3 separate regions of the Homo sapiens genome follow, and regions 1 and 2 are each linked to region 3. Evidence: fine-mapped expression QTL. A gene starts in region 3. Each other region holds a variant in brackets. All regions are shown on one strand. Distances are between the middles of the regions. Region 1 overlaps NCOA2 (nuclear receptor coactivator 2). Region 2 has its middle 27 kb from the start of PRDM14. Region 3 holds the start of LINC03020 (long intergenic non-protein coding RNA 3020).

Region 1 (8,000 bases), 270 kb before region 3:
TACAAGCCAAAATGATGTATACATTTGATCTAAAAGTGGCACACAAGCTGTGCAGTTATGAGTTAAAGAGTAATTAAGGCTGGAGGTCTGCCTAGAAGTACGATGGCCAGAAAGATAAGAGCAGGAGACAGCCTGGAAAGTACAATGGGACCAGCCAGCAAAGGGCCTTGAATACCATGGGAAGGCATTTTCCTTCGTCCTGCAGGCAGGGAGACTCACTGGAGGCTCAGGAGTTACACAGCCAATGTATTTTTAGAAAGTTAATGGTGATAGCAGCGGGGATGGATTATAGAAGGTAAAGAAGCAGAGATGAGTTAAGGTGAGAAAAGATGTCTTAAATTAGAGTGCTGAAAATAAACATGGGAAAAAAGGGTTATATAGCACAGAATACAGTGAGGAACTGACAGAGCTGACTAAATTGGCTGATTGTGGGGAAGGAAGAGGTAAAAGAGAAGGTGGCTGGAACTGAGGTTTCTAGCCTCGGTAAGGACAAAACAGGTGATCAGCGCATGGTGGTTACACAGACTGAGATAGAGCACAGAAAAAAGGATGAGGCAGTCTTTTCAGAAGGCAGAGGAGAAAACGGGTTTGGTTTGAGAGTATCAATTTAAGGCACCTGTGGAACACCCCTGTGGATGTCTAATGGTAGCTGGCAATCTGGACGGACAATGAAACTGTAAGACGGGGGCTGTGGGGAGGGACTCACCGAGTATCTGTGCAATGAAAGATGAGGGAAAGGTCAAGGGCAGATTTACCTTGACAGTCAGCACAAATACAAGCAATAGTTAAAACTCATTAAAGAGCGAATTTTATTTGAGAAGAAGAAAGGGCCAAGGTTTAGATGAGGAAAAAAAGCCAGTGAGTGAGGATGAATGTGGTACAGCTCAAAAGTAGAAAGGGGTGAGGTGCAGTGGCTCATGCCTGTAATTCCAGCACTTTGGGAGGCTGAGGTGGGAGGATCACCTGAGGTCAGGAGTTCGAGGCCAGCCTGGCCAACATGATGAAACCTTGTCTCTACTAAAAATACAAAAAAAATTACCTGGGTGTGGTGGTGGGTGCCTGTAGTCCCAGCTACTCAGGAGGCTGAGGCAGGAGAATTGCTTGAACCCAGGAGGTGGAGGTTGCAGAAAGCCAAGATTGCGCCACTGCACTCTAGCCTGGGTTGTCAGAGTGAGACTCCATCTCAAAAAAAAAAAAAAAAAAAAGTAGAGAGGGATGGTCAACAGAGACAGCTACCAGAGAAGCTAGGCAGGCAGATGGGAAGAAGAGCTGCCACCTCTGATCAACGGGAGTCGCTGCAGACAGTCCAGGGAGCAGTGAGGGGCACACAGGCCAGAGTTTAGCTGCTGAACAGTAAACAGGAGTGTAACTTCCTTCATTTTGTAAGAAATTTGGCAATAAAGAGAAGAAGAACGAGCAAACAGTATGGTGACAAGAAAACCATCATAAGGAGGCAGAACTCAGATCTTTCTTGGTCCCAGGCCACATCCTGCCATCTCCCTATTCACTCCTCTGTTAGCTGTAGGCTAATTACATCCATTGACAGCCAACTAGGCCAGAATTTGCTAAAAGAAACATCTTTAATACTCACGCTATCAGGATTTTTCGTACCTCTATATAATGTATACAGTCAGCCTTCTGTATCCATGGGTTCTGCATTGGTGGATTCAACCAACCACAGATTGAAAATATTCAGGAAAAGATGGATGGTCTGTACCAAACATGAACAAGCTTTTCTTTTTCCCCCCTTGTCATTATTCCCTAAACAATACACTATAACAACTATGTATATAGCATTTATATTGTTTTACATATTATATAATAAGTAATCTACAGATGATTTAAAGTAAACAGGAGGATGTGCATAGGTTATACACAAATACTATACCACTTTATATCAGGGACATAAGCATCCAAGGATTTTGGTATCCATGGGGGTCCTGGAACCAATCCCCCATGGATTCAGAGGGGTGACTGCATAAAATATGTATATTTATTTATAAGGTACACGTATGTACCTCTGTTAGAATGAACATCAAATATTATTGGAGTTCAATATTATGGGTCCTGGTTTATCTATTCATTTCTAGCTGAAAGGCAAGAGACCAACCACCTTCCATGAAGCCCAAGCAAGATCACTTCCTAAGGCATACAGCATTACTGCCTTACTCTAGGGATGGATTTTGCACTGTAATTTACTGATCTGTGGCCTGTCTCTCCTACTGCTCAACTCCAGCTCCATGAAGAAGGCATTCATTAAGGGTTTCCTGACTGACAAAATCATTGTGTAATTCTGACTCGCCACTACCTATCCCTAGTCAGGTGACACAATTGAAGGAACAATAATTGCTACAACATGGATAAAGCTTAAGGACATTACACTAAGTGAAATGAGCCAGTCACAGAAGGGCAAATATTACATGATTCTACTTACACAAGGTAACTATAATAGTCAAATTCATAGAAGATGAACAGTAGTGATGGTTACACAAAAATGTGAATGTAAGGCCAGGTGTGGTGGTGCATGCCTGTAATCATCCCAGCACTTTGGGAGGTCGAGGTGGGAGGACTGCTTCAGCTCAGGAGTTCAAGGCCAACCTGTGCAACATAGCGAGAACTCAACACTACCAAAAAAGTCAAATGTGGTGTTGTACACCTGTGGTCCTAGCTACTTGGGAGGCTGAGGTGGGAGAATCACTTGAGCCCAGGAAGTCAAGGGGCTGCGGTGAGCCACGATTACACTACTGCACTCCAGCCTGGGTAACAGGGTGAGACTGTGTCTCAAAAAAAAAAAAAAAAAAAAAAAGTAAAGTGAATTTACTTAATGCCACTGAACTGCACATTTAAAGATGGTAAATTTTATATTATGAATATTTACCACAACAAAAAAGGTCAAATTAAAATCAATTCTCAGGTTAAAGGATAATTGGTATTTAGAGTCTTTAAATCAATAAGTATTACAAGCAGAACTGCAATTCTTGTAATTTTGTGAAGTATCCTCTACAGTCACATTCACAGAAAATCTCTTAACAAAATATGAACCAGAATCTGACATGCTGATAAACACACCTCTGGAGTAAAAGCTGGACTAGCAATCATAATCTCCAAGTCCAGAACTGCAGGTCAACTTTTTAGCAGACTTTGCACTCATGACAACACCTAAGCTGTAAGAGGCTCCATTTCTTACCTATAAAGCTGAGGTGAAGAACACTATTACTGTTGCCCCGGAGTTATTACCTTACAAATCTCAGGGATGGGGATGATAAGAGGATAAAAACACAAGCTCCTACACTGATTACCAGGGATAAATGACTCAGTAATTAACAAAAGGTGAACATTTTGTAAGAAGAAATGAACTAAAATATTTCAGAGTGAGCAGCAGTAATAAGAGGAGGAAAGAACTGGAAGTGAGTGCCTCTATTCTGCCCATGCCCAAACTACAGATAGAAGGACAGCCATTACACTTCTTCTTTCCCTGTAACCTGTATAGGAAGTCTAACGTAGCAAAAAGCTTCAGCGCAAGAAATACTCTTTAGGGGGACATGAGAAACGACTGAAATGAGGCAAAATGTCCAGAAAGGAGATGTCAATGCCATGGTGGTTTTCTCTCATTCTCCTATTGACTTCTAATCTGCCTCAAAGAATCCTCCTTCCTGTACCTTAGAATCTCCCCGCTCCCATTTTCTTGGCCTATGATCATGTTTAGTGCCCTAGATTATTCAGTGATAAATATTATGATACTTGACTATAGAAGGCATTCTGTGATGCAATATAGTATTAGATAATTATTCTTTTCAAAATATCTCCTTGGAAAAGATGTTCAACATCACTATTCAGCAGGAAAATGCAAATGAAAACCACAATGAGATATCACCTCACACCTATTAAGGACAGCCACTATCAAAACCACCCCCAGAGAGTAAGTGTTGGTGAGAGTATGGGAAAATGGAAAGTCTTGCACACTGGTGGTGGAATTGTAAAATGATGCATCCACTATAGAAGACACTATGGAGGTTCCCTGAAAATTTAAATGCAGAATTACCATGTATAAGCCAGTAATCTCACTTCTGGGTATATACCCAAAAGAATTGAAAACAGGATCTCAAAGAGATATTTGCATCCCCATGTTAATTGCAGTATTTTATTCATAACAGCCAAGATATGGAAGCAATCTATATGTACATCAATGGATAAATGAATAAAGAAAATGTGGTATATAACACAGTAGAATCTTATTCAGGCTTAAAAAAAGAAGGAAATCCAGTCACATGCCACAAAATGGATGAACCTTGAGGACATTAAGCCATGTGAAAGAACCCCAATCACAAAAAGACAAATACTGCCTTGTTTTATTCATATAAGGTATCCGAAGTAGTCAAACTAGCAGAACTAGAAACTAGAATGGTGATTGTCAGGGGCAGGGAAACAGAGTTGCTGTTTACTGGGAACAGAGTTTTACTCATGCAAGATGAAATTCTAGAGATCCACTGTACAACAATGTGCATATAGTTAACAATATTGTAATTTACACCTAAAAATTGGTAAGAGAGTCAATTTACTTTATGTGCTTATTTACTACCCCACCCACAAATTCACCAACCAAAAAAAAGTCTCCTTGGAAGGACCAATGAAAATAGTTGCAAGGGCTGGGCGCGGTAGCTTATGCCTATAATCCCAGGACTTTGGGAGGCTGAGGTGGCCGGATCACGAGGTCAAGAGATCAAGTGGTGGCTCATGCCTGTAATCCCAGCACTTTGGGAGGCTGAGGCAGGTGGATCACGAGGTCAAAAGATCGAGACCATTCTGGCCAACACGGTGAAACCCCGTCTCAACTAAAAATATAAAAATTAGCTGGGCATGATGGCATGTGCCTGTAGTCCCAGCTAATCAGGAGGCTGACGCAGAAGAATCACTTGAACCTGGGAGGCAGAGGTTGCAGTGAGCCGAGATCGCACCACTGCACTCCAGGCTGGTGATAGAACAAGACTCTGTCT[C/CAAAAAAAA]AAAAAAAAAAAGAAAAAAGAAAGAGGAAATAGTTGCATGTGTAATTTATTACTGTATAATCCATATCAGTCTGAAAATACGTAAGTCTAAAGTCCATAAAATTAGTCACAGTTCCCTCTCCCTTCTTCTACCAGTACAACAGATTTTTAAAATAGGATCGTTCTTATTGATTTGTTTTTAAAAAAACAAACCCAAAACAAACACCCATGAAAAATGTACTTTACTATAATCCCAGCTACTTAAGAGGCTGAGGTGGGAGGATCACTTGAACTCAGAAGTTTGAATCAAACCTGGGCAACATTGCAAGACCTCAACTGAAAAAAAAAAGAAATAAGAAAGAAAGAAACAGAAAAACCTACTTTAAACCTAAGCTAACCAGTGAATGACAATAATAAACAGTGGTATTTGTGCTCTTATATCTTTTGTTTATTTCTATGTTTAAACTCTTCTCCCTACCACAGCACAAATATTTAATTCATTTCTCAAAAATTGGCATCATTCTTCAAACTAAAAGAATGAATTAAATGTAAACATCAGCTCACAGAAATTTAAATGTACTCGGCAAATTCTTACATGAGTTATTTCAAAACCAATATATCTAATATCTGCGCAGCACTAACATAAAATGTGAATGTGCGTTCTATATTATATATTCTAGTCTAAAACAATATGTCTATTTAAAACATTAGAGAAAATATTCCATGGTAATTAAAGTTCCTAATAAAAAATTATAAAATACTTCTTTTCATAGGATTCTTTTTTTTTTTTAAGATGAGGTCTCGCTCTATCACCCATGAGTGCAGTGGTGCAATCTTGGCTCACCGCAACCTCTGCTTCCCGGGTTCAAGCGATTCTTCTGCCTCAGCCTCCTGAGTAGCTGGGATTACAGGCGTGTGCCACCATGCCAGGCTAATTTTTGTATTTTTAGTAGAGACGGGGTTTCACCATGTTGGCCAGGATAGTCTCGAACTCCTGACCTCAAGTGATCCGCCTGCCTCAGCCTCCCAAAGTGCTGGGATTACAGGCATAAGCCACCATGACCGGCGAATAGGATTTCAAAATATATTCTAGTCGACAAGCTGTGAGGATTCTTCATCCTTACAAAAACAAACAGGGCTCCAGCTATGCTTATCAGAATCTAAGAGAGTTAACAGTTCACCACCACTTGTTTTATAAAGATGTTAATGCACTATCAGGAGGCAAACAAAAATATTGTAAATAATATTTGTCACAAGATAGGTTGTAATCTGTAATCCTTGTGCAAGGATGGGAATGTATTCACTCAGTTACTATAATACAAATGTTATGTTCTTAAATTTAGGGCAGTATTTTCTCCTGATATAAAACCATTACACAAGGCTGAATAAAGGCCAGGAATCAGAAAAATCCAACAAATATTTATTTTACATAAACTAAGAACAAACATGATACTCAAAACCGCTGCAGGTGGCTGGGTGCGGTGGCTCACGCCTGTAATCCCAGCACTTAGGGAGGACAAGGAGGGCAGATCACCTGAGCTCAGGAGTTCAAGACCAGCCTGGGCAACATGGCGAAACCCTGTCTCTACTAAAAATACAAAAATTAGCCAGGCATGGTGGTGCATGACTGTAGTGGTGCACACCTATAATCCCAGCTACTCAGGAGGATGAGGCACAAGAATCGCTTGAACCCGGGAGGCAGAGGTTGCAGTGAGCGGAGATCGTACCATTGCACTCTGGCCCGGAAGACAGAGCAAGACCTTGTCTCAAAAAAAGAAGTGCTGCAGGTCCAAGGGTTAGGTAGATAATACAACCTCTGCCATCAAGAAATCTGTCATTCAGTGGGTGAAGAGAAAGTGAAGTACCTAAAACACTAAACAAACACTAAACAGAGTAAGATCAGACAGTACCAGAGATGTCAAAGGAGATGAATTCATATTTGTTTGGAGATTAGAAAGTGTTTTGTGAAAAAAAAAGCAGTGTTTGAGATAGGCCTTGAAGAATGAACAGTAGGAATGTAATGGGAATAGACAGAAACAGGAAAAGCAGTATTTTGGATAGGGAGGAAAGAATACAAATAATCACACCAAAGTGAAAAAGCACAAGTATGTGAAGTATGTGTCAGCAATAATAAGTAGTCTAGGGTAATGGGCTTTGGGTATACGTACTGATGAAATGAGCCACAAGAATACAGTAGTAGGCCAAACTGGTCAGACCCGAGGTCTTGGTGAAGCCCCCTTGCCACTGGACCTTCTACTATCATCCACCCAGATTCCCTGTCACTATACACTACAAACGCAGAATAGCTGTGATACTCCATCAGGATGGCCTACTAAAGGTGAGCAGATGTCAACCAGCTGAGAGGGGAAAAAAAAAGAGGCATTCCCAAACAGAAGACCCAGAAGGAGGAAACCACAACGTGAGAGCCTGAGCCAGTGTATGTCATGGGGAAGAGATGCAAGTGCAAAGGAGGTTGTCGGTTGGAGCAAGGGAGAATGGCAGGACTGGAGACAAATCACAGGGGTACTAGTCTTCTATGGTGAGGGTTCTTCTTTTGGACTTTGTCATAGACTCCGCTAGTAGTCACGAAGTCGGGGCAAATGATCAACCTGGCTCCCTCAAGGAGGATCTTAAGGAGTACCTTTAGCAGATTCTTGTATAGGAATGGCCAAGTATTACTCCCCTGGGCACAATGGCAGATACTATGCCCCAGCAATCAAAGTGGCAGGAGCAGGTAGCATACTGATTCACCTCCCCCACCCTCTGACAAGTACAAGAGAGGGCTGAGCAGCCAGGAAACATGTGGGCACTCTTCACTAAAGCTGGGGTGGGAGTAGGACAGAAGGTAAGGACTGGCAGCTAGTGGGCTCAGCCCAAGGGCTCTTATCTACAAATGTGCCCGCAGTGTCACAATATGACTCTGCATTAAGTCATTAGTGACAATGTCATAAGGAACTATAAACTAAGATATTTAAGAATTTCTCTATCTTGGTGTTTGAACCTGCAAGTGGGTACTTCTGAGTGTAC
Region 2 (11,431 bases), 430 kb before region 3:
CCCAAAAGTTCAAGAGCAGCTCGGGCAATAGAGTGAGACCTTGTCTCTACAAAAATATAAAAAATTAGCTGGGTGTGTGTCTGTAGTCCCAGCTATCAGGAAGGCTAAGGTGGGAGGATCACCTGAGCCCAGGAGGTCAAGGCTGCAGTGAGCCGTGAGTGTGCCACTGCCTGGATGACAGAGACCCTGTATCAAAAAAAAAAAAAAAAGAAAGAAAGAAAGAAAAGAAAAGAAAAGGGGGTGGGGGCTTAAGCAAAGGAGTGATAACATTGTGTTTTGAAAAGATGCCTCTAGCTGGGAAGAAAATGATCTGGATTGGGGCAAGAACAGATATAAAAGTTATTTTATCAGATGGGTTGAGATGAGGGCCTTAGGCTTCTGAGATGAATTGCATGAACTGGGTGTGAGGTGTGACAACCAGCTTGCTAGGGCAGTAGATAGTGGTGCCATTCCTCAGATAGGGACCTGGGGATGGGATGGAGACACTGTCAGGTTTGTAGGAAAGATCTTGAGTTTAGTTTTAGATGTGTCAAAGTCAGTTGCCTCTGAGACACACAAGTAGAGATTCCATGTAGAAAGACAGATCAAAATGTAGGAATTGTCAGTGTACAGATGGCAATCGAAACAAGCTATGGCAATGCAGGAGACTGTGCAGGGACAGAGAGAACAGTGACAAGAGTGCAGGGCACAAACATTTACAGGTTGAATGCAGGAAGCCTGTAAATGTACCCCAGGAACCAGGAGCGGGGAGGAACATCAGAGGGCAGCACATATTTCAGGAGCCGACTCGCCTGCTGGACATGGAAGTTGGAGTATCCTTGGGACCAGGGTTTGCAGGGCTCTCAGATTTGTAAACTGCAGTTAGTGATTCTGCTGTGGGCTGATGGGCAGCCCTCCTTCTGCTCCATTTGTTTCAGCAGAACATAATTTTGAAGGTCTAGCAAGTGAACTTTAGGCCTCATTTTGTAGTTTCTTTTTTTTTGAGACGGAGTCTCGCTCTGTCACCCAGGCTGGAGTACAGTGGCGCGATCTCAGCTCACTGCAAGCTCCACCTCCCAGGTTCACGCCATTCTCCTGCCTCAGCCTCCCAAGTAGCTGGGACTACAGGTGCCTGCCACCATGCCTGGCTAATTTTTTTTGTATGTTTAGTAGAGACAGGGTTTCACCATGTTAGCCAGGATGGTCTCGATCTCTTGACCTTTTGATCCGCCCGCCTCGGCCTCCCAAAGTGCTGGGATTACAGGCATGAGCCATGCACCCGGCCTCGCTTTGTAGTTTATTTCAGATTTTTACATGTATATCTCAATTAACAAAGAAAAGGGGGTAATTTAATGAAAGAACACATTTTGCTGTCAACATTTCATTACTCTTATCTTCCACCATTTCCACATCAGCTATTATCAAGTAAATACAAGTGGACATTTTTAAGTACAGTATCTTCAGAATTGTACAAATAGGAAATGAAGTTCTGAACCCTGATGTTCAGAAAACACCAAGGTGTAGCGTTTAATTGCTTTCCAAGACCCATTCATGACTTGTCTCATTTAGGCACTATTTTTTCCCCAAAGCAGATTGCGTCAACAACCATCGAGTCCCTGCTATGCAAGACATAAAACTGCTGAGATGATCCTACTAGTAACTATTTAATGAAAGAAAGATGGGAGGAAGGAAGGGAGCAAGAGAGGGAAAGAATGAGAAGATGAGTTTTGCAATAAAAGAGTCCATAATTTGGTGGTGAAGATCTATTTCAAATAGCTAGTAGATGTTATCTCTCTTTTGGTAAAATAATGACAATATGCTTATTTCCTAAGCACGTGGTTGAAAATCAATCTTTGTGCACTCTGGATCAAATAGGCATGCGAATATAAAACACCTTATGTGAGATGGATCATTTAAAATAGAGTATAAAGACAGTGAGTTTGTATTTGAAATGACAAAACAAACTTAAATCACCCTGCATGATAGCCAATTTCAACCTCTCCGCTTTTTAGCAATTTATCAACCAATCATTAAGTGAGTTAACTCTACACCCAGGGAATGCTGATGGCAGCATTAGCCATAAATAAATAAGCTAATATGTACAATAGCTAAATGAATAGACTTTTCCTTGGTGTTTTATGGCCTGAAAAGAATGCAGCTTTTCATTAAAGGAATCATTTGAAAATGTGGAAACTGATACTGCCGCCGTTCAGTGCTCTCTGCCCATTGATAATGGCCTCTGTATTAGTTGTGGGGGTGGGAGACTGATGTCCATTTACTTTTGCAAAGATTGTTATTGAATGAAACCTTTAATGGGGGCGTTTTATGATCCCACTCAGCTAAGAGCTCAGGGTTGCCTTAGAATAGTCTTTCCCTTCACCTCGACAGCTCTTAGAGAATCAATACAGGTAATATGTCAGTTGGTGGTCAGCAGTCCTGCAAGTAGAGGTAGAGTTGAAATGGAAACTGACAGGTAGCCACTTAGAGAGAGGGCCTGGAGTAAACACTCTGAAAAGTGAAGCTTCTCCTGGGAGTGGGGAGTGTGCAGCCCTCACACTATCATCAGTGCCGGGATCCGATAGGAAGAGCTAGGAACAAAGACAAGACAGCAGGGGAAAAGCCTCTCAGAGCTGGGGGAAGGCTGTCCATTGGGGCAGTACCTTTAGAGCCCCAGGATTCATATGGTTTGTCCACTTGTAGCATCTGTCATTGGTCTAATTTTAAAAAAATTATTTTAAAATGATTTTTTAAAATTGTGGTAAAATAGATGTAACATTTATTGTCTAAACTTTTTTTAAATTTCTTTTTTTTTGAGACAGGGTCTCACTCTGTCATCTGTCACCCAAGCTGGTGTCCCTGTGGTACAGTCACGGCTCACTGCACCTTCGACCTCCTGGGTCCAAGTGATCCTCCCATCTCAGCCTCCCAAGTAGCTGGGACTACAGGCACACGCCACCATACCTGGCTAATTATTTTGTATTTTGTAGAGATGGGGTTTACATGTTGCCCAGGCTAGTCTCGAACTCCTAGTCTCAAATGATCCTTCCACCTTGGCCCCCCAAAGTGCTGGGATTACAGGTGTGAGCCACTGAGGCTGGCCTTTTTTTTTTTTTTTTTTAATTTCACTAGTTTTGGGGAAATAGCTGGTTTTTGGTTACATGGGTAAGTTCTTTAGTGGGGATTTCTGAAATTTTGGTGCACCTGTCACCCAAGCAGTGTACAATGAACCCAAAATGTAGTCTTTTATCTCTCACCCCCCCTCCCACCCTTCTCCCCCAGTCCCCAAAATCCATTATATTAATGTCATTCTTATCCCTTTGCATCCTCATAGCTTAGCTCCCACTTATGAATGAGAACATACAAGATTTGATTTTCCATTCCTGAGTTACTTCACATTCAGTGGCATTAAGTAAATTCACATTGTTGTGTAGCCACAGCCATTATCCAGCTCCAAAACTCTTCATCTTGCAAACCTGATTCTCTACAACCATTTAACAGTGACACCCTGCAGGCCCAGTGACCACCATTCTACTTTCTGTGAATTTGACTACTCCAGGTACCACATATTAGTGGAATCATAGTGTTTGTCCTGTTTGGGTTGTGAGTTTAGGTTTCTCAGAGAGAATTTCCCCTATGCTGCCTTTAAGCATTTTGTGATTAATATACTGTAATTCACAGACAGATCTCTATTTTTGAGAGTCATTTTGTATTTGTTATTCAAGTAATAGTTTACAAACATCTGTTTCTTCGTATTTACTTTCTCTCCCTCTCAAATCTTGCCACATCTTGAAAAAACAATTGCATGTAAGTATCCAGCTAACTGGTGAACCAGGAGGTGCCTTTGCAATTCATAAATTGGCAATTGCAAAAGTTCCTGGCTGACAGTGTTCAAGTGTCTTCTTCCTCTTACTGGGCACTTGAGTCTGCAGGCTCAAAACCCCCAGGCAGCCAGAGCCTGGAGGGCCTTAAAGGGCCTTATATTGGAGCATTGTCTTTGCACTGGCCTTCCCAGGCCCTGCAGTCCTCCCCTTGGGCACGTGCACAAGACTGGGATCCCATGTCACACCAGCCACATGTCACACCAGCCATAACCTAAGCTACTAGTCAACAGGAAAGATTTCAGACCCCCCTGTTATCATCAGGAATAGAGAGACCCACCTTGGACTTGCCTTGAGGGGGTTTTAGGGCTGAAGGGATTTGGTATAGTATTTAACAACTGGGAAAGAGAGACGGCCGGTTCCCTCTAAGGAGAATCCGGAACAGCAACCTTGGAAGACACCGTACACAGTTTTAATGGAAGATAGATTCAAAATCAAATTTAAGAGAATTTGGTTCTGGCACCTTTAAATCAGATAACCCGGGGGAGTGGAATTCACCTAGAGGGCTCTTCCCTAGGTCAGGTCTGCACAGCCTTGTAGCAGTAAGGTTGAGGAAACTTTTCCAAAGGAAAAAAAATCCTACTGACCCCAAAGCAAGCTTAATGGGGATAAAATGAGTGATTTTGTTTTGCAGTTTTCCCTCTGCATTCTCTGGCTGCATCTCAGTACGTGCATTGGTTAATAATGCGAACCCCACCCCCAACCCCCAGCTATTCAGGAAACTGAGTCAGGAAGATACCTTGAGCCCAGGAGTTTGAGTGAGTTATAATGGCCACTGCACACCAGCCTGGGCAACCAAGTGAGACCCTGTCTCTGTCTCTTTAAAATAAATAAATACACAAAAAGGCCAGGCACGGTTGCTCACCCCTGAAATCCCAGCACTTTGGGAGATCGAGACAGACGGATCACTCGAGCTCA[G/C]GAGTTCAAGACCAGCCTGGGCAAGATGGTGAAACCCCATTTCCCCAAAAATACAAAAATGCCAGACGTGGTGGTGTGCTCCTGTGAGTCCGGCTACTCAGGAGGCTGAGGCAGGAGAATCGCTTGAGCCTGAAAGGCTGAGTTTGCAATGAGAGAGATAGCGCCACTGCACTCTAGCCTGGGCGACAGAAAGAGACTATGTCTCAAAACAAAACACAAATGCCAAGAATTAAAAAAATAATATATTAGGTAAGAAAAATCTTACATAATATTTTCATTATTAACACTTAAAAAATTGTGCTTGCACCGGGCGCGGTGGCTCACGCCTGTAATCCGAGCACTTTGGGAGGCCGAGGCGGGTGGATCATGAGGAGGTCAGGAGATCGAGACCATCCTGGCTAACACGGTGAAACCCCGTCTCTACTAAAAATACAAAAAAATTAGCCGGGCGTGGTGGTGGGCGCCTGTAGTCCCAGCTACTAGGGAGGCTGAGGAAGGAGAATGGCGTGAACCTGGGAGGCGGAGCTTGCAGTGAACCGAGATCGCCCCACTGCACTCCAGCCTGGGTGACAGAGCCAGACTCCGTTTCAAAAAAAAAAAAAAAAGTGCTTGCTTCAGCAGCACACATGCTAAAATTGAAAAAAACAATTGATACATATATAGAGATGCCAAAAAAAACACAAATGGGCCCAGCATAGTGGCTTGTACCTGTAATCCCAACATTTTGGGAAGACCAAGTGGGAAGATCGCTTGAGCCCAGGAAGCGGGAAGATCGCTTGAGCCCAGGAGCTAGAGACCAGCTTGGACAACAAAGTGACAACTCCATCTCTATTAAAAAAAAAAAATTGGCTGGACGTGGTGGCCCATGCTTGTAGTCCCAGCTACTCAGAAGGCTGAGATGGGAGGATCACCTGAGCCCAAGAGGTTGAGGATACAGTGAGCCATGATCATGAGCCACTGCACTCCAGCCTGGGAGACAGAGTGAGCGAAATTCAGTTTCAACCCCTGCCCCTCCCCCACCCCCTACCTTCCCCACACAGAAACAAATGGAGGTCTACTGTTTTTGTTTTGTTTTGTTTTTTGTTTTTTGTTTGTTTGTTTGAGACGGAGTCTCGCTCTGTCGCCCAGGCTGGGGTGCAGTGGCGCGATCTCGGCTCACTGCAAGTTCCGCCTCCCGGGTTCATGCCATTCTCCTGCCTCAGCCTCCCGAGTAGCTGGGACTACAGGCGCCTGCCACCACGCCCGGCTAATTTTTTGTATTTTTAGTAGAGACAGGGTTTCACCGTGTTAGCCAGGATGGTCTCGATCTCCTGACCTCGTGATCCGCCTGCCTCGGCCTCCCAAAGTGCTGGGATTACAGGCGTGAGCCACCGCGCCCGGCATTGTTTTTTGTTTTGTTTTTTTTTCCAGACGGAGTCTGGCTCTGTTGCCAGGCTGGAGTGCAGCGGCACGATCTTGGTTCACTGCAGCCTCCGCCTCCCAGGTTCAAGCGATTCTCCTGCCTCAGCCTCCCGAGTAGCTGGGATTACAGTCACGTGCGGTCACACCCAGCAAATTTTTGTATTTTTAGCAGAGACGAGGTTTCACCATGTTGGCCAGGATGGTCTCGATCTCCTGACCTCGTGATCCACCCACCTCGACCTCCCAAAGTGCTGGGATTACAGGTGTGAGCCACCGACCCTGGCCAGAAGAACACTTTTTAAAACAATTCATGAAAATGAAGAATGGGATTCCATCCCCTTTGATAGATTTTCTTGATAGTAAACTGCTTTCAATAGAAAGTACTGTGCTAGAAATAAATCCAAGATGAATTTTATGAATCTACGATGCAATTTACATGTTAAAGCACAAACAATTTATCTCACTTTTTAATATACCAAAAAATGTATCAAGAATTCTCATCTCAAATATAAACAATAATTTTTTTTTTTTTTTGAGACGGAGTCTAGCTCTGTTGCCCAGGCTGGAGTGCAGTGGCTCGATCTCGGCTCACTGCAAGCTCCGCCTCCCGGGTTCACGCCATTCTCCTGCCTCAGCCTCCTGGGTAACTGGGACCACAGGCGCCTGCCACCATGCCCGGCTAATTTTTTGTATTTTTAGTAGAGACGGGGTTTCACCGTGTTAGCCAGGATGGTCTCGATCTCCTTACCTCGTGATCCACCTGCCTCGGCCTCCCAAAGTGCTGGGATTACAGGCGTGAGCCACTGTGCCCGGCCTAAAATTTATTTTTCAAAAGAGAAGAGAATTCTGGCCGGGTGCAGTGGCTCGCACCTGTAATCCCAGCACTTTGGGAGGCAGAGGCAGGTGGATCGCCTGAGGTCAGGAGTTTGAGAATAAATAAATAAATAAATAAATAAGAATTCTGAGATAATTTAAGATGAAAAACAATTTAACAGTGAAAAGAATATCCTGAGATCATGTGCAAAAATAGAACCAATCTTCTCCCTAAACATTCTCTCTCCTAGTTGTAATCAGGGCTAAATATCTCATCTCAAAATACTAGAATTTATTCTATTTAAGCTCCTTTACACCAACAAAGTGATGTGGTGAAAATTTTTTGCATTAACTAGTGGAAGTACTTTTTATTTCTTGAACACGTAACCTCTTTGAATAATGTAGAAAACCATTGTTTTCTGGCTGCGAGCGGTGGCTCACGCCTGTAATCCAGGCACTTTGGGAGGCCGAGGCGGGTGGATCGCGAGGTCAGGAGTTCAAGACCCGCCTGGCCAAGATGGTGAAACCCCATCTCTACTAAAAATACAAAAAATTAGCCTGGCACGGTGGCAGGCGCCTGTAGTCCCAGCTACTCAAGAGGCTGAGGAAGGAGAATCATTTGGACCCGGAGGGTGGAGGTTGCAGTGAGCCAAGATCATGCCACTGCACTCCAGCCTGAGTGACAGAGTGAAACTCTCTCTCAAAAAAAAAAAAATAAAGAAAACCATTATTTTCTATATGAGATTCTCATACTTTATGAAGAGAATGTCAATGAGGAAGACATTTATCTCTGTTTTATATAATTTTTAACATTATTTTCCTTTCAAGATAATTTTGGTAATTCTATTTTAATATCTGCCAAATAACAAAAAAGTTCTTTTTTTTTTTTTTTTTTTTTGAGATGGAGTCTTACTCTGTCACCCAGGATGGAATGCAGTGGCACGATCTCAGCTCACTGCAACCTCTGCCTCCCGGTTCAAGCAATTCTTGTGCCTCAGCCTCCCGAGTAGCTGGGATTACAGGCACATGCCACCACGCCTGGCTAATTTTTGTATTTTTAATAGAGACTGGGTTTCACCATGTTAGCCAGGCTGGTCTTGAACTCCTGACATCAAAAGATCTGCCTGCCTCGGCCTCCCAAAGTGCTGGGATTACAGCCGTGAGCCATGGTGCTCGGCCACAACAAAAAAGTTCTATGATATGAGATTCTAGCTCAATGTTTCTATTGAAATAATTCAATGTACAAGTCTGTTCCCCTGAACTTTGGGCAGGGTTCATAAATTTAAGAGTCCATTGCAGTTATTCAGTTACTGCCCCTGGAGTCATAAAACTTTTTTTTTTTTTTTTGAGATGGAGTCTTGCTTTGTCACCCAGGCTGGAGTGCAGTGGTGTGACCTCGGCTCACTGAAACCTCCGCCTCCTGGGTTGAAGCAATTCTCCTGTCTCAACCTCCCAAGTAGCTGGGATTACAGGTGCCCACCACCACACCCAGCTAATTTTTGTATTTTTAGTAGAGATGGGTTTTCACCATGTTGGCCGGACTGGTCTCGAACTCCTGACCTCAGGTGATCCACCCACCTCCGCCTCCCACAGTGCTGGGATTACAGGCATGAGCCACCGTGCCCGGCCTCACAAAGCATTCTGAACGCCCTTAAAAACTATGTCTGAGCAAAATATTCTGCAATCTATAATGTCAAAATCAGATCCACCAATAATAGATGGTCTAGGACAGTATTTGTGATTTTACCTGTATTATACTTGGAATGGCAGCTCCTACCAACCCCAGCCTGCCCTGTGCTTTGCCTGGGTACAAATGAGCTGTAACTTTGTGGCCAGTGTGGCCAGAACACTGAGTCTTCTGCAGGCCCATTGAGATCCCAAGCATCTATCTACTCTGATAGCTTTGTTCACTGCAACTGCCAACTTCCCCAGATTCAGAAAGGACATCCTGAGGGCTTATTAGGAGCACCATCAATATCAGGGATGCCGCTTTACTTTTAGCCTAGTTATTTTTTCAGGGTTTTAAATGTCCCTCTTTATACATTTTTTTTTATTCTAATGAGTGGAAGGATGATACAATTATCAGATACAGACTCAGGTAGGGAAAAGAAATATAAGCAGAGAAACTACCTCAGGAGATCTCTAAATTCTATCTGTAGCTCCAGAAACAGTTCTGTATTTCCAACAATAAAATAAGAAAACTGTTTTCCACTGGTATCCATTATTCCCAGTAAGTACACCATACTGCCTGCAGTCCTCATTATAATGGTGTCTCCTAATTAATAGCTGCAGTGACTGGGAGGATAAATCAAATAAAGCAATGGTTCTTCAATATTATGGATGTGATGTTAAACCTCAGAAATCAAATGATTTTTCCAACATTATACAATGAGGAAATGGGGGACAAATACTAGTTTGCCTGACTCCAAAATCTGCATTCTCTATGTTATACCTTATGCTGCATCTAAAAATGTTCAGCCAGAATAAGTGTATTAGCGTAGTTTTAATCTCATTCTACATTCTACGTGGTGCTTTGTCTTCTACTTTGACTGTCCTAGTCTACTGTTTTTTTTTTTTTTTGAGACAGAGTTTCGCTCGTCGCTCAGGCTGGAGTGCAATGGCGTGATCTCGGCTCACCACAACCCCCACCTCCTGGGTTCAAGTGATTTTCCTGCCTCAGCCTCCCGAGTAGCTGAGATTACAGGCACGGGCCACCACGCCCTGCTAATTTTGTATTTTTAGTAGAGACCGGGTTTCTCTGTTGGTCAGGCTGGTGGTGAACTCCCAACCTCAGGTGATCTGCTCACCTCGGCCTCCCAAAGTGCTGGGATTACAGGCATGAGCCACCATGCCTGGCTGTCTACAGCTTTTATTATTATTTTAAACTGGTTTAAATTAGCTTTAGAAATAGATTACATACATTTTATTTTTAAAAATTTTAAATATATTTTTAAAACAGGGTCTTATAGTGTTGCCCAAACTGGTCTCAAACTCCTAGGTTCAAGTGATCCTCCTGCCTCGGCCTCCCAAAGTGCTGGGGTGACAGGCATAAGCCACTGCACCTGGCCAATAATATACATTAAAAAAAATAAACATAAAAGAGCTTCAGGGTATTACTATAGAAAGATGTTATGTTATGAATGACTGTATTTCCCAAACTAAAAGTTGAATTATGTAACCCTATCAATATGACCAAAACTTTGAGTAAACAGGTATTAAATGAAATGGTCCCCAAAATTTTCTAGTTAGTATAGGATATATTATCCGTTATACGGTATTATTATTTGATTGTTCAATTACTGGCATGCATGCATTTGAATGACTGTTAGAAAATAGCAAAAAAAATAAAATAAGAAAAAATAACCCTACCTCCCTTTGCTGCTATTCTAGGTCAAAGAATGAAGTTGTTAATTTGAATTATTCAGTGAGTGAAAAAACTGGGATCACACCAGTTTGTGATGACTTGTTTTACTATTTGATTTAAAAATAATGTTTAAACCCATAACAGTAAGAACATGTTTCGAGTAATACATTTTGAACCAGCAGTTAAGGAAAGGCTGCCTAATTACACAATGAGCCCCCACGTCTTCGAAAGACCATTGTTCTGTCTTAATTAACATGAAGTAAATCAGTCCTAAAACAACAGGGCACATTCCCATTAGGATAAATTACTCAGACTTCAGCAAGGCAGCAAATAATTCCCTAGAGTAGAATCTGTCACTGCTTTTCCACCTGCACTATATCTCTCTCTCAAAGGACTGGGCTAGAGCTGGGAGCCTCCCTCTGGAAGGGGCATCTGTTCCATATTGAATTTGCTCCATTTGTGGCCATGGGTGGAGGGTGCAGCAGATCCCCAGGCAGTCAGCAGAAACACAGCTGGGATGGGACAGATCCTCAGCAGCTGTGGCTGCCTTCAAAGCACTTTTATCCTGCTTATTCTGGTCTCAAATCTTCCACGTGGGTATTTCAGTCTGTTATTGCTTAACTTAATATAGGGAAGAATGGGATGGGTAGTCTCCAGAAAAATGCTATTTTCTTTTTTTTTTTTATTTTTTTCTTTTTTTGAGATGGAGTCTCTGTCACCCAGGCTGGAGTACAGTGGCACCATCTCGGCTTACCGCAACCTGTCTCCCGGGTTCAAGCAATTCTCCTGCCTCAAGACTCCCGAGTAGCTGGGATTACAGTTGTACACCATAATGCCTGGCTAATTTTTGTATTTTTAGTAGAGATGGGGTTTTGCCATGTTAGCCAGGCTGGTCTCGAACTCCTAACCTCAGGTGATCCACCTGCTTCAGCCTCCCAAGTGCTGGGATTACAGGCATGAGCCACTGCACCTGGCCCAGAAAAAATGCTATATTCTTAACAGGATCCATAAACCAGGCATAGAGGCTAGTTAGGAGGCTGGGCTCTGGAGCTGGGCAGACCTGGCTTTGCCTCTTAGA
Region 3 (11,431 bases):
AGGCCTGGCCGAGCTGTGGTGGGCTCCACCCAGTTCAAGCTTCCCTGCTGCTTTGTTTACACTGTGTGCATACAACTGCCTACTCAAGCCGCAGCAACGGCGGACACCTCTCCCTCCGCCAAGCTCCAGCATCCCAGGTCGATCTCAGACTGCTTCACTAGCAGTGAAGCAAGGCTCCTTGGGCATGGGACCCGCTAAGCCAGGCACAGGAGGGAATCTCCTGGTCTGCCGGTTGTGAAGACCATGGGAAAAGCACAGTATTTGGGCAGCAGTGTACTGTTCCTCCAGGTACAGTCACTCACAGCTTCCCTTGGCTAGGAAAGGGAAATTCCCTGACCCCTTGTGCTTCCCGGGTGAGGCAACGCCCTGCCCTGCTTCAACTTGCCCTCCGTGGGCTGCACCCACTGTCCAACCAGTCCCAATAAGATGAACCAGGTACCTCAGTTGGAAATGCAGAAATCACCCGTCTTCTGCGTTGATCTCGCTGGGAGCTGTAGACCAGAGCTCTTCCTATTCGGCAATCTTGGAAGCGACTCCGTCAAAATACTTTTCAGTTCCTCTTTTGATATCTTCTTTAAATGATCTCAAGATCCCACAATAGGCCAGCTGCAGGCTGAGGAGCAAGGAAAGCCAGCACAAGTTCCAAAACAGAAGAATTTGGAGTCCAATGTTTGAGGGCAGGAAGCAACCAGCACAGGAGAAAGATGTAGGCTGGGAGGCTAGGCCAGTCCCCATTTTTTGTATTTTTAATAGAGATGGGGTTTCACCATGTTGGCCAGGCTGGTCTTGAACTCCTGACCTTAGGTGATCTGCCTACCTCGACTTCCCAAAGTGCAGGGATTACAGGCGTGAGCCACTGTGCCCGGCCTTATATTTTTTATCTCTTGATGAGAAAGATCAGAGTCTTTTTTTTCTCTCAAATCCTTCAGCCAATCCATCAGCAAGAACCGCCAGCACTATATATTCTGAATCCAACCACTTTTCACCATTTCTATGATTTCCATGTTGGTGGAGGCTGTTGTCATCACTTGCCTGGACTATAGTTATAGCCTCTGACTGGCCTCCCTTCTTCCAATCTTGTCTTCCAAAGGATCTTTTCCCTACACAGATGCCAGAGTGATGTTTTAAAAATGTAGCCTGAATCATGTTATTTCTATACTCTGAAGCCTCCAAAAGCTTTCCAAAATATTCAGAAGACAATTCGAACTACAAGACCCTACATGAACTGGATCCCAACTACCACTCTCCCTGTCTCTCTCCTGAATCCAGCCATGCTGGGCATCTCGATATTCTTTATGTGTATGGTATGAAGCTAGCTTGTGTCTCAGGGCTATTCTACTACTCCATCCTCTACCTGGAAGCTTCTTGCCTTGTCGCATCATATGTCTCAGGTCTCTGTTCAATGTTGCCTCTTCAGAGGGACCTTCCCTTTCCATGTTTTATAAGTTAGGTCACCTGCCCCTTGTCATTCTCAGTATCCTTCATTTGCTGTATTTTTTTCACGGAACTTTTCACTACCTGAATTTATATCACAATACTTCTGTTTATAGTTTGTTATCTCTCTCAGCTACCAGCATGCTATCTTCATGACAGAAGGAATTTTTTGTTTGTCTTGTGCCTTGATGTGTCCCTAGCACCTAAATTGATTTGGCACATAATATGTGCTCAATAAATACCTTTTACTAAAAAAATGACTCAGTGTTTACTAATACAGGACTGTGGTTCTCTAGATTTGTATCATTCTCTCATATTGCTCTGGGATTGCAAAATTATCATAGTTGGCTGGGCGCAGTGGCTCATGCCTGTAATCCCAGCACTTTGGGAGGCAGAGGCAGGTTGATTGTTTGAGGTAAGGAGTTGGAGACTAGCCTGGCCAACATGGTGAAACTCCGTCTCTACTAAAAATGAAACAAAAAAAGTAGCCACATGTGGTGGCAGGAGCCTATAATCCCAGCTACTCTGGAGGCTGAGGCAGGAGAATTGCTTGAACCCGGGAGATGGAAGTTGCAGTGAGCCAAGATCATGCTACTGCATTTCAGTGTGAGTGACAGAGCAAGATTCTGTCTCAAAAAAAAAAATTATCATAGACACATGTACATTCCTGAAAGCACAATTAATCAGCATATAACATTTCCTGGACAATTTACCTAAAGAATAGTAGAATCTAAATAATATTAGAAGACAGTTGAATTAGATCCAGTCAATCAACTACCTGATTTGTCTTTTCAGCTGCGATGATAATTTCCGGCAGGTGACCCAGACATGGTAGGCCTGTTGGCTTGCAGCATGACTGTGGTTAGATGTGCCATCCTCATGTACCATGAAAGCAATCTGAGTGCACACCCACTGTCTGTGTTATTAGGATAAGTTTTCTTTTCCATCTTGATTCACCTCACAAATCACCAAATATTCTGTGTCGTGGTAATTTCCTGTGTTCTTAAAAGTATTTACCTCCCACATTACCGAAAAATTTAAAAGACCAGAGTTGACCAGAAAGGCCTAGCCACTTCACAAAAACTTCCCTTTTATGAATGCTTGTGGTTAGTCACATAAGAAATATGTTGAATTCTCTTCATGTGTCAAATTATGTGGGAGGCACTAAGAAAAAGCAAAAACACAATAGCCCTACATCGGGATCACACTCTCACCTCTCTCATTCATGGTATCTGCTCTGGAGAAGTTTATAATCTATTCAAAGCTAAAAAAAAAAACAAAAAACAAACAAACAAAAAAAACCCGGCCGGGCGCGGTGGCTCATGCCTGTAATCCCAGCACTTTGGGAGGCCAAGGCGGGCAGATCACGAGGTCAAGAGTTCGAGACCAGCCTGATCAACATGGTGAAACCCCGTCTCTACTAAAAATACAGAAATTAGCCAGGCATGATGGCAGGCGCCCATAATCCCAGCTACTCAGGAGGCGGAGGCAGGAGAATCACTTGAACCCAGGAGGTGGAGGTTGCAGTGAGCTGAGATTGTGCCATTGCACTCCAGCCTGGGCAACAAGAGCAAGACTCTGTCTAAAAAAATAAAAATAAATAATTAAATAAATAAATAAAGCAGAAACCACCTAAAATGGAGACTAACGTGAAAGTATATAGTTAAGAGCTACATTGATGGGTTGAAATATATATTATAGGAATTGAGGGCTGAGCAATCATTGACTGGATTGGACCTTTCAGAGAAGGTTCTAGAGAACGAAGGAAAGCTTCATAGAGAAGTGGACACAAGACCCAGTCTTAAAGGATGAGGGACGGTACTGCAGGCACAAGAAATTCACTCAACTGATGATGATTCAGCATCAGTTTGGTCACCATTATCGAAGCGTTTTGAATGTGTAGCTGCGACCTAAATAACTTCCCAGAGGTAAATGCATCCTGTAGGTTTACAACAAGCAGTATTATTAAAGTAGTCTATATAAAGAAGCTACTCCAGAAAGAAATTCAAACCCACACATGATTAAGCAAGAAGGATGAATCATACTCAAAATGGAGGAAATAACTATGCAAGACTTAAATAACTACTTGTGCTTAGTTTAAAAGCTGTTTTTTTAAAATCTCTCCCTTTAAAAGCTTTTCTTTACTCCCCAAATCCAATAAAATAATTCTATTTAACTTTATCAGTACAAAACTTACTGCCAAAGAAAATAATCACAATATTTATGTTGCTGTATTAGTTATTGCAAAATTGATAAAAGAAGATGGAACAGATAATGTGCTCTTATTAATACACATGGAATCACTAATCCTGTAACAGTTTTATCAAGGAGGTGTGATTAATGCCATTTTGAGGTGGCACAAGTAAGGGTCAAAACTGACAATAAGCCAAGTTCCTAAGCTCCCGCAGCTTGTAAGTGGCATTGCTACTGGGGTTTGAAGTCTGGTCTGTCTGGCTCCATAATACCACCAAGACCTGCCATAAGGAAACTAAATAGGTGGAGCACAGTGGCTCACGCCTGTAATCCAAGCACTTTGGGAGGCCGAGGTGGGCGGATCACAAGGTCAAGAGATCGAGACCATCCTGGCTAACATGGTGAAACCCCATCTCTACTAAAAATACAAAAAATTAGCCAGGTGTGGTGGTACGCCCCTGTAATCCCAGCGCTTTGGGAGGCCGAGGTGGGCGGATCACGAGATCAGGAGATCGAGACCATATTGGCTAACACGGTGAAACCCCATCTCTACTAAAAATACAAAAAATTAGCCGGGCGTGGTGCCACGTGCCTGTAGTCCCAGCTATTCGGGAGGCTGAGGCAGGAGAATCGCTTGAACCCAGGAGGTGGAGGTTGCAGTGAGCTAAGATCATGCCACTGCACTCCAGCCTGGGCGACAGAGGGACTCCGTCTCAAAAAAAAGAAACTAAATGAAAACAGGTTAAGTAGAAGAAGGAAGCCAGTCTATGATGGTCGACAAATGAACAATACACTCACACATAATAATCTGCGAGGTATACAAATAGATTCCATCTACTATCAATCTAGGGCACATCACTTCCAGCAAATCTTGCTTTTAATTTTAACAGCACTTGCATTATTCACAATACTTAATTTGACCTTTCAGTTTTCTATTTTTACACTGATTTTTACATGAAACTTACACATTAGCGAGAGAAGCACTTTAAATCAATCCCAAACAAAACACAAAATGAAAGTCTCTGAGTCAGGAAAGATTGGGAGGCAAAAGTTTGACCTTGTGAGTTGCATCCATTAGGAGCACTAGCAATCTTTGCCAGCCAGCAGCCAGTAGGCAGAGGGGTGGGAAGTAAACGCCAGGATAACGAGGCAAGACCGCCTCCCAATTCTCTTGAGTTACGCTTCTATTTTATTTTGTTTGAATTTTTTTGGTAGAGATGGGGTCTTGCTACGTTACCAGGGCTGGTCTTGAACTCCTGACCTCAAGTGATCTTCCTACTTCAGCCTCCTAAAGCACCGGGATAACAGGCATGAGCCACCATGGCACCTAGTCTTGCTGGAATTTTTGAGATCAAATCTGCCATGTGTAAATCTAAGTCTTTATAAGAAGCATATTTCAAAGCCAAATACTAGTAATGTTTATATCAGCCGCTATTTTACATTGCTCAGGCAGTGTTCTCTTTCACTAATGCTATTAGCTGAACATTGGTTCAATTGCTTAGAATGGAAACAATTATATGTAATATTTCATAGTTATTGCTCTTGACATATATCAAAAGAGAAGTGACACTGGATGTGACAATTCAAATAAATTCCAATATGGAACACAACTTTTGCCCCCAATTTTTCCTGTGTTTTCAAATAGAGATGCTAAGCTTTATTTCTCATACTACTTATTTGTTGGGTCCTGCTCACAGGACTGGAGGAGTGAGGTCAGTATGATATGGAGTGCTGGGAAGGGAAAAGCGTGGTCCCTTTAAATGATGCGGAATGGAGGAAGGGAAGTGCTGGGTAGAGAAAGGCGGGTCCCTGGCTAAGGCTCCTCCCCGACGAACCCCATTCCTGCTTTCCCGCTCAAATGTTGCATTTTCTAAGACCTCCCTGGCCCGCCATACGCCGATCCTGAACCTACGAAAACCCAAGACTGCGGGCACGGTGGCTCATGCCTGTAATCCCAGCACTTTGGGAGGCCGAGGCGGGCAGATCACGAGGTCAAGAAGTCGAGACCAGCCTTGCTAACATGGCGAAACCCTGACTCTACTGAAAATACAAAAATTAGCTGGGCGTGATGGCGTGCGCGCCTGTAGTCCCAGCTGCTCGGGAGGCTGAGGTAGGAGAATCGCTTCAATCCGGGAGGTGGAGGTTGCGGTAAGCAGAGATTGCGCCACTGCACTCTAGCCTGGCGACAGAGACTCCTTCAAAAACAACAACAACAACAACAACAACAACAAAACAAAACCTCCCAAGACCCTAGTGGGCAGACACACAGCCAGCCAGACATGGAGAGGAGCACATTAGCAGAAGAAGACGCAAGTGGCTGGTCCTCGAGAGGACGTTGAGAGGAGCATGCCAGCAGAAGAGCACACAACGACAGGCACCGACACACCACCGGCAGGCCATGCACCAGCAGAATGATGCGGAGTTTGACGGGGCAGTCAGAGAAGAGCCTGGGCCGCCAAGGGGCCCGACTCCAGGGGAAAACCATCTCCCTTCTGGCTCCCCCATCTGCTGAGAGCTACTTCTACTCAATAAAACCTTGCACTCATTCTCCAAGCCCACGTGTAATCCGATTCTTCAGGTAAGCCAGGGCAAGAAACCCCAGGATACAGAAATCCTTCTGTCCTTGTGATAAGAAAGGGGGTGTAATTGAGCTAACACAAACCGCCTATAGATGGCAACCTAAAAGAGCATCCTGTAACACACGCCCGCCCACTGGGGCTTCAGGAGCTGTAAATATTCACCCCTAGACACTGCTGTGCGATCGGAGCCCCACAGCCTGCCCGCCTGTATGCTCCCCTAGAGGTCTGAGCAGCAGGGCACTGAAGAATCGAGCCACACCTCATCACACACCCTGCGAGGGGGACAAGGGAGCTTTTCCCATATCAAGTAGATTGCCCTGGTGCTGCAGAAGCAGGAAAAACAGGACCTGCCCATACCCAAGAGCCCGGCAACTCTGGCTAGAGTGAGGCCTGAAATTGTGTCCGGAATTGGTGGGTTCTTGGTCTCACTGGCTTCCTCTCAAAATCACGCTCAAGAGACGCCACAGTTAGAGGTAATGGCACCTCTTTTTTTTTTTTAATTTTTAATTATTTATTTTTTGTGAACTGGGGTCTGGCTCTGTCACCCAGGCTGGAGTACAGTGGTGTGATCATAGCTCACTGCAATCTCGAACTTCTGGGCTCAAGTAATTCTCCTGTCTCAGCGCCTGAAGTTGCTGGGATTATAGGCAGGAGCCGCTGCTACTGGGTTTACTTTTTAAATTGTGGTAAAATACACATAACATAAAATTTACCATCCTAATCACTTTTAAGTATACAGTTCAGAGGTATTAAATACACTTAAAATGTTGTGCAACCAGCACCGCCACCCACTTCTGTAATTCTTTTCATCTTGCTGTTAAAATTATGAGAGGCCATTGTTTTGGACCTAGGCCAAATCAGATCAGACCTCTTTCTGCACTAGGCCCCAACAGACCAGACCAAATCAAAATGGAGTCACTCATGCTAAATGAGACATAATCAAAATGAAACTAAGGAAGCTGCAAAGCTTTGCTGCCATTTTTAGATTACTACTTTCCTGATTCAGCATTTTCTTGGTTACAACAAAAACAGACCAGTTTTTTTTTCTCACCTGAAAACAGGAGATTCCAGCATAAAGAGGTCCCTTCTGTTCTAACCCTTACCAAAAAAAACAAAACAAAACAAAAAAAAAACAAACCTGAAGTCCTGGTTCTCACATTTAAAAACTCACTGTTTTGCTATTTCCCACTGAGATTTGAGACCAAATAAGTACACTGACAATGGTGACAGAGTGACATCAATGTCTAAAGTTTTGGCCAATCAAAACTGAGAGGTTGACCAAAAGGGGGCAATTGTTAAATTAAGTTTTGCCTAAAGCTGCCTCCTTACATATTTTAAGTTTGGTCTAAATGTTTCTCCATACACAGTGAACTGTAACCTGACTGGAGGTGTAAACAGACTGTAACCTACTCTTGTGCCAATCATCCAGTTTTGGCCAATCACAGGTAGCCAACTGATCGAATGTGTTCAACACCCAGCTGTAACCAATCAGGCTGTTTCTGTACCTCACGTGTGTTTTCTGTATGTCACTTGCATTTTTCTGTGAAAAATCCTCTCTGACTGCGAGGCAGTGCCAGAGTTGCTCTTAACTTATTCAAGGAGGTCGGGGAGTCTGCATGGTTCTTGAATTGTTCTTTGCTGAATTAAACTCTGTTAAATTGTCTAAAGTTTTTTTTTAACATTGCAAAACTGAAACTGTACATCCATTAAACACTAACTCCCCATTCCCTTCTCCCCCCAGCCCCAGACGACCATCATTCTACTTTCTGTCTCTATGATTTTGATTACTCTAAGTATTATTGGTACCCTTTATGTAGCACCTTGGTGACTGAAGACCAGGTTCAGGGAGGTTTTTGTGTTTTGGTTTTGCTTTTTGTTTGTTCTTTTTTTTGAGACAGGGTCTCACTCTGTCACCCAGGGTAGAGTGAGTGGTGTGATCACAGCTCACTGTAGCCTTGAGCTTCTGGGCTGAAGCGATCCTCCCACCTCAGCCTCCTGAGTAGCTGGGTCTATGTGCATGTGCCACCATGCCCAACTAATTTTTTAATTTTTTTGTAGAGGTGTGGTGTCTTACTGTGTGGCCCAGGTTGGTCTCAGACTCCTGGCTGCAAGCAATCCTCTCACCTCAGCCTCTCAAAGTGTTGGGATTACAGGTATGAGCCACCACACCCAGCCAGGCTCAGGTTCCTAATGTTGGTTATCCATCTATGAGTACCAACATGCAGCAGTGGTAATTATATTAAAACTTACTATAATTTTAATTAATCTTTTGTTTTTGTTTTTGTTTTTTTTTTTAAGACAGAGTCTCGCTCTTTTGCCTAGCCTGCAGTGCAGAGTGGCACGATCTCGGCTCACTGCAACCTCTGTCTCCTGGGTTCAAGCCATTTTCCTGCCTCAGCTTCCTGTAGCTGGGAGTACAGGCATGTGCCACCACACCCAGCTAATTTTTTTTTTTTTGTATTTTTAGTAGAAACAGGTTTTCGCCATGTTGGCCAGGCTGGTCTCGAACTCCAGACCTCAAGTGATCTGCCCGCCTTGGCTTCCCAAAGGGCTGGGATTACAGGCATAAGCCACTGCGCTCGGCCTGATTTTCATACATAGTACATATGTATATATATATATATTTAATATAATTTTCAAAATCTGAGCATTATTATATTACAGTTTGCAAGATCTTAGCATTATCATAATATCTTTTTTATTTTGTCTTAGGCCTCTCCTGCCAGTTCTAAAAACTAGTAGAATAAAAACCTTAGGTACTAAGTTATACTTCGTTTACCATTTTCTCTAATTTATTATTTCAACTCAGAATCACAAAAGAATGCTCATTCAAACACAGTGGTAATATGACAGTGAGTAGCACTTGAGAAACACAAGCCAGACACAGTGGCTCACACCTGTAATTCCAGCACTTTGGGAGGCTGAGGTGGGAGGATTGCTTGAGCTCAGGAGTTTAAGACTAACCTGAGCAATATGACAAAACCCAGTATCAACAAAAAATACAAAAAAAAATTATTTATTTGGGCATGGTGATGAGTGACTGTATTCCCAGCTATTCTAGAGGCTCAGGCAAGAGGATGGCTTGAACCCAGGAGGCGAAGGTTGCAGTGAGCCAAGATCACGCCACTATACTCCAGCTTGGACAACAGGGCAAGACCCTAAGAAAAACAAAAACAAGCCACCTTTCCATGTGGATTATATTCCTAGGCAATTTACTATACGTGGAAATAAAGTGTATCAACTATTATTTTCTCCCAGAAACACTGCTGTAACAGAAGGGTAAAGTTCCTGACCTAGGGCCTTATGCCAACTTTTACTAAATGCAGGACTTAATAAACTATAAATGATATATTTTAGTTTCATAGCATAAAGCTTTCTAACACACACACATAAATCAATTAAGTAGTGCTACAAGTAGTCAATAAACATAAAATCCATTTAATATGGTGCAGTCTGTTTGACCACATCTTCCTGCCAACTATTACACTGAAGCAAAACAACTCCAATGGGCAGGCTTATTCATTTTATGGATTTCAGGATGATTTCCTTGAGGACATTTTGACGAGTATATTGAAGGAAAGTTTGGGGCAGTTATGTGATGCCGTTCTGGAAAAGAAAAAAAGTGAACTCAGGAGTGATTACTTGCCATTCCCTCGTTCTCTGATAGTCAATTTTCCTGTTGTAAAACCTAGGGATTAGAACTAATCACAGCCCACTAGTGTGGTTAAGGTTGGGATTCATTTTCTCAAAAGGGGAGAGCAACATATGTTCATGTGAGAAACTGCCTGTTTACGTGTCAGAAGTTACAACATGGGTGTAATTGGCAAAGGGCTGTAAGTGTGAATGGCTATGAGTACAAATCACTGTAAGGATTGCTTGCATGATTTCCCCCTCCAATTTATCACTGAGTGGAAGAAACATGAGCGGGGAGATCTTGGTTCTTGTCATCCCAGTTAATAAATTCAAAGCAAAAATGGGCAGACTCACAGAAGGCCTGAGAGTCCTGAACTAGACCTTCAAATAATCCCAAATGTCATGTCAGACTACTGTTCTGTGATAAGAAATGGTCAGTTATCTTTTAAGAACCCAATAAACATCACGCAAAGTGGATCTCTAATAATTATTCTCCAAATCTTGTGATAAAATACTGAGCTTTATGTCAAGTCAGCCCTGTGTGGCAGGACACCGTGAGCAGTACAATTTGTTCTACCTCAGGTTGAGGGATAAAAGAAACCACTCATTTAATCTTGTATTACATCAAAATTGATTTGGTCAAAAGTCACAAATTAGTTCAGTCATTTTTGACAGCATGATTTTTATCAGAGGACCAAAAGTTTGGTTAAATGATGGGAGAGAAGGGGAGAAGATTTTGTTTCCAATCTTGGGAAAAAGATCTGTGCATCAAAATTATTCACCTATCATTTTCAGATACCATTGTTCACAATAACTCTCCTAGAGCTGTGTTTATTTTTTGCAGAATGCACTCTGTCAGTTACATTGATCTTAAAGGGCTTAGTTATTCCTTTCCTTGCTGTGCAACCAACTCCACCAAAGTTGTGTTTATCTCTGCTTGTTTTCTAATCCAGTGGAACCAAGGAGGCAAGATGGTCAGGTATGATATGATTTCCCCTTAATATGGAAACTGCTGTTTATCTAGTATGTTGCAAAAGTAGTAGCCTTGCTCTCTAATCACCTAAAACATACCTGAAAGCAAGAAGGTTCTCTCCCAAAAGCTGGTAAACACAATGTCACAAACCAACCTGTCTGCCATAAAGGCACTGGTGATGTCCACAACGTGTCCTTCAGGAGGTCAAACAAGTGACACTCTCAGATTCTGAAAGTGGAGAGCCACCACCCCTTTAGGCCCTTCTAAGTATGGAAGAGAGGAAGGGAACCAGCGATTAGTTTTACTTCTTTAGAAAATCCAGCTCTTTTTCAGATTATTTCTTTTTTGCCTTCATCCCAGAGAGTAAAATTCCTTTGAAACAAGGAAGCATTTCTTTCAAGAACATCTTTACCTGCTTTAGCTTTTGTTTTCTGATAGTCAACCCCACCCATTGTTTCACTTGACAAGTAAGGGAAAGAAAGATTTTTTTTTTAACTCATCTAAAGAAGGAGAACCTGTATGGATGGATCTTGAAACCAGTGGAGTGGGTGCCCACTGTGGGCAGGACTAGGAGCAAGGAGGTGCACTAAAGCCAGCCTTTACATGGAGCCGCCTCACC

Evidence for each region.
Region 1: its variant is fine-mapped to the expression of LINC03020 in whole blood (INTERVAL, PIP 0.98).
Region 2: its variant is fine-mapped to the expression of LINC03020 in whole blood (TOPMed, PIP 0.98).

The regions. Positions count from the first base shown.
Region 1 is chr8:70,198,267-70,206,266 of GRCh38, forward strand. The region is part of intron 4 of NCOA2 (nuclear receptor coactivator 2); the gene reads right to left. Among named protein-coding and RNA genes, the nearest start is that of PRDM14, 130 kb to the left of the region's middle. The variant C/CAAAAAAAA (reference allele first, on the strand shown) is at 4,995.
Region 2 is chr8:70,038,622-70,050,052 of GRCh38, forward strand. No RefSeq gene overlaps it. Among named protein-coding and RNA genes, the nearest start is that of PRDM14, 27 kb to the right of the region's middle. The variant G/C (reference allele first, on the strand shown) is at 4,776.
Region 3 is chr8:70,465,641-70,477,071 of GRCh38, forward strand. It overlaps LINC03020 (long intergenic non-protein coding RNA 3020), which reads left to right and starts at 5,494. Exons shown (of 4, transcript NR_110653.1): 1 at 5,494-6,205.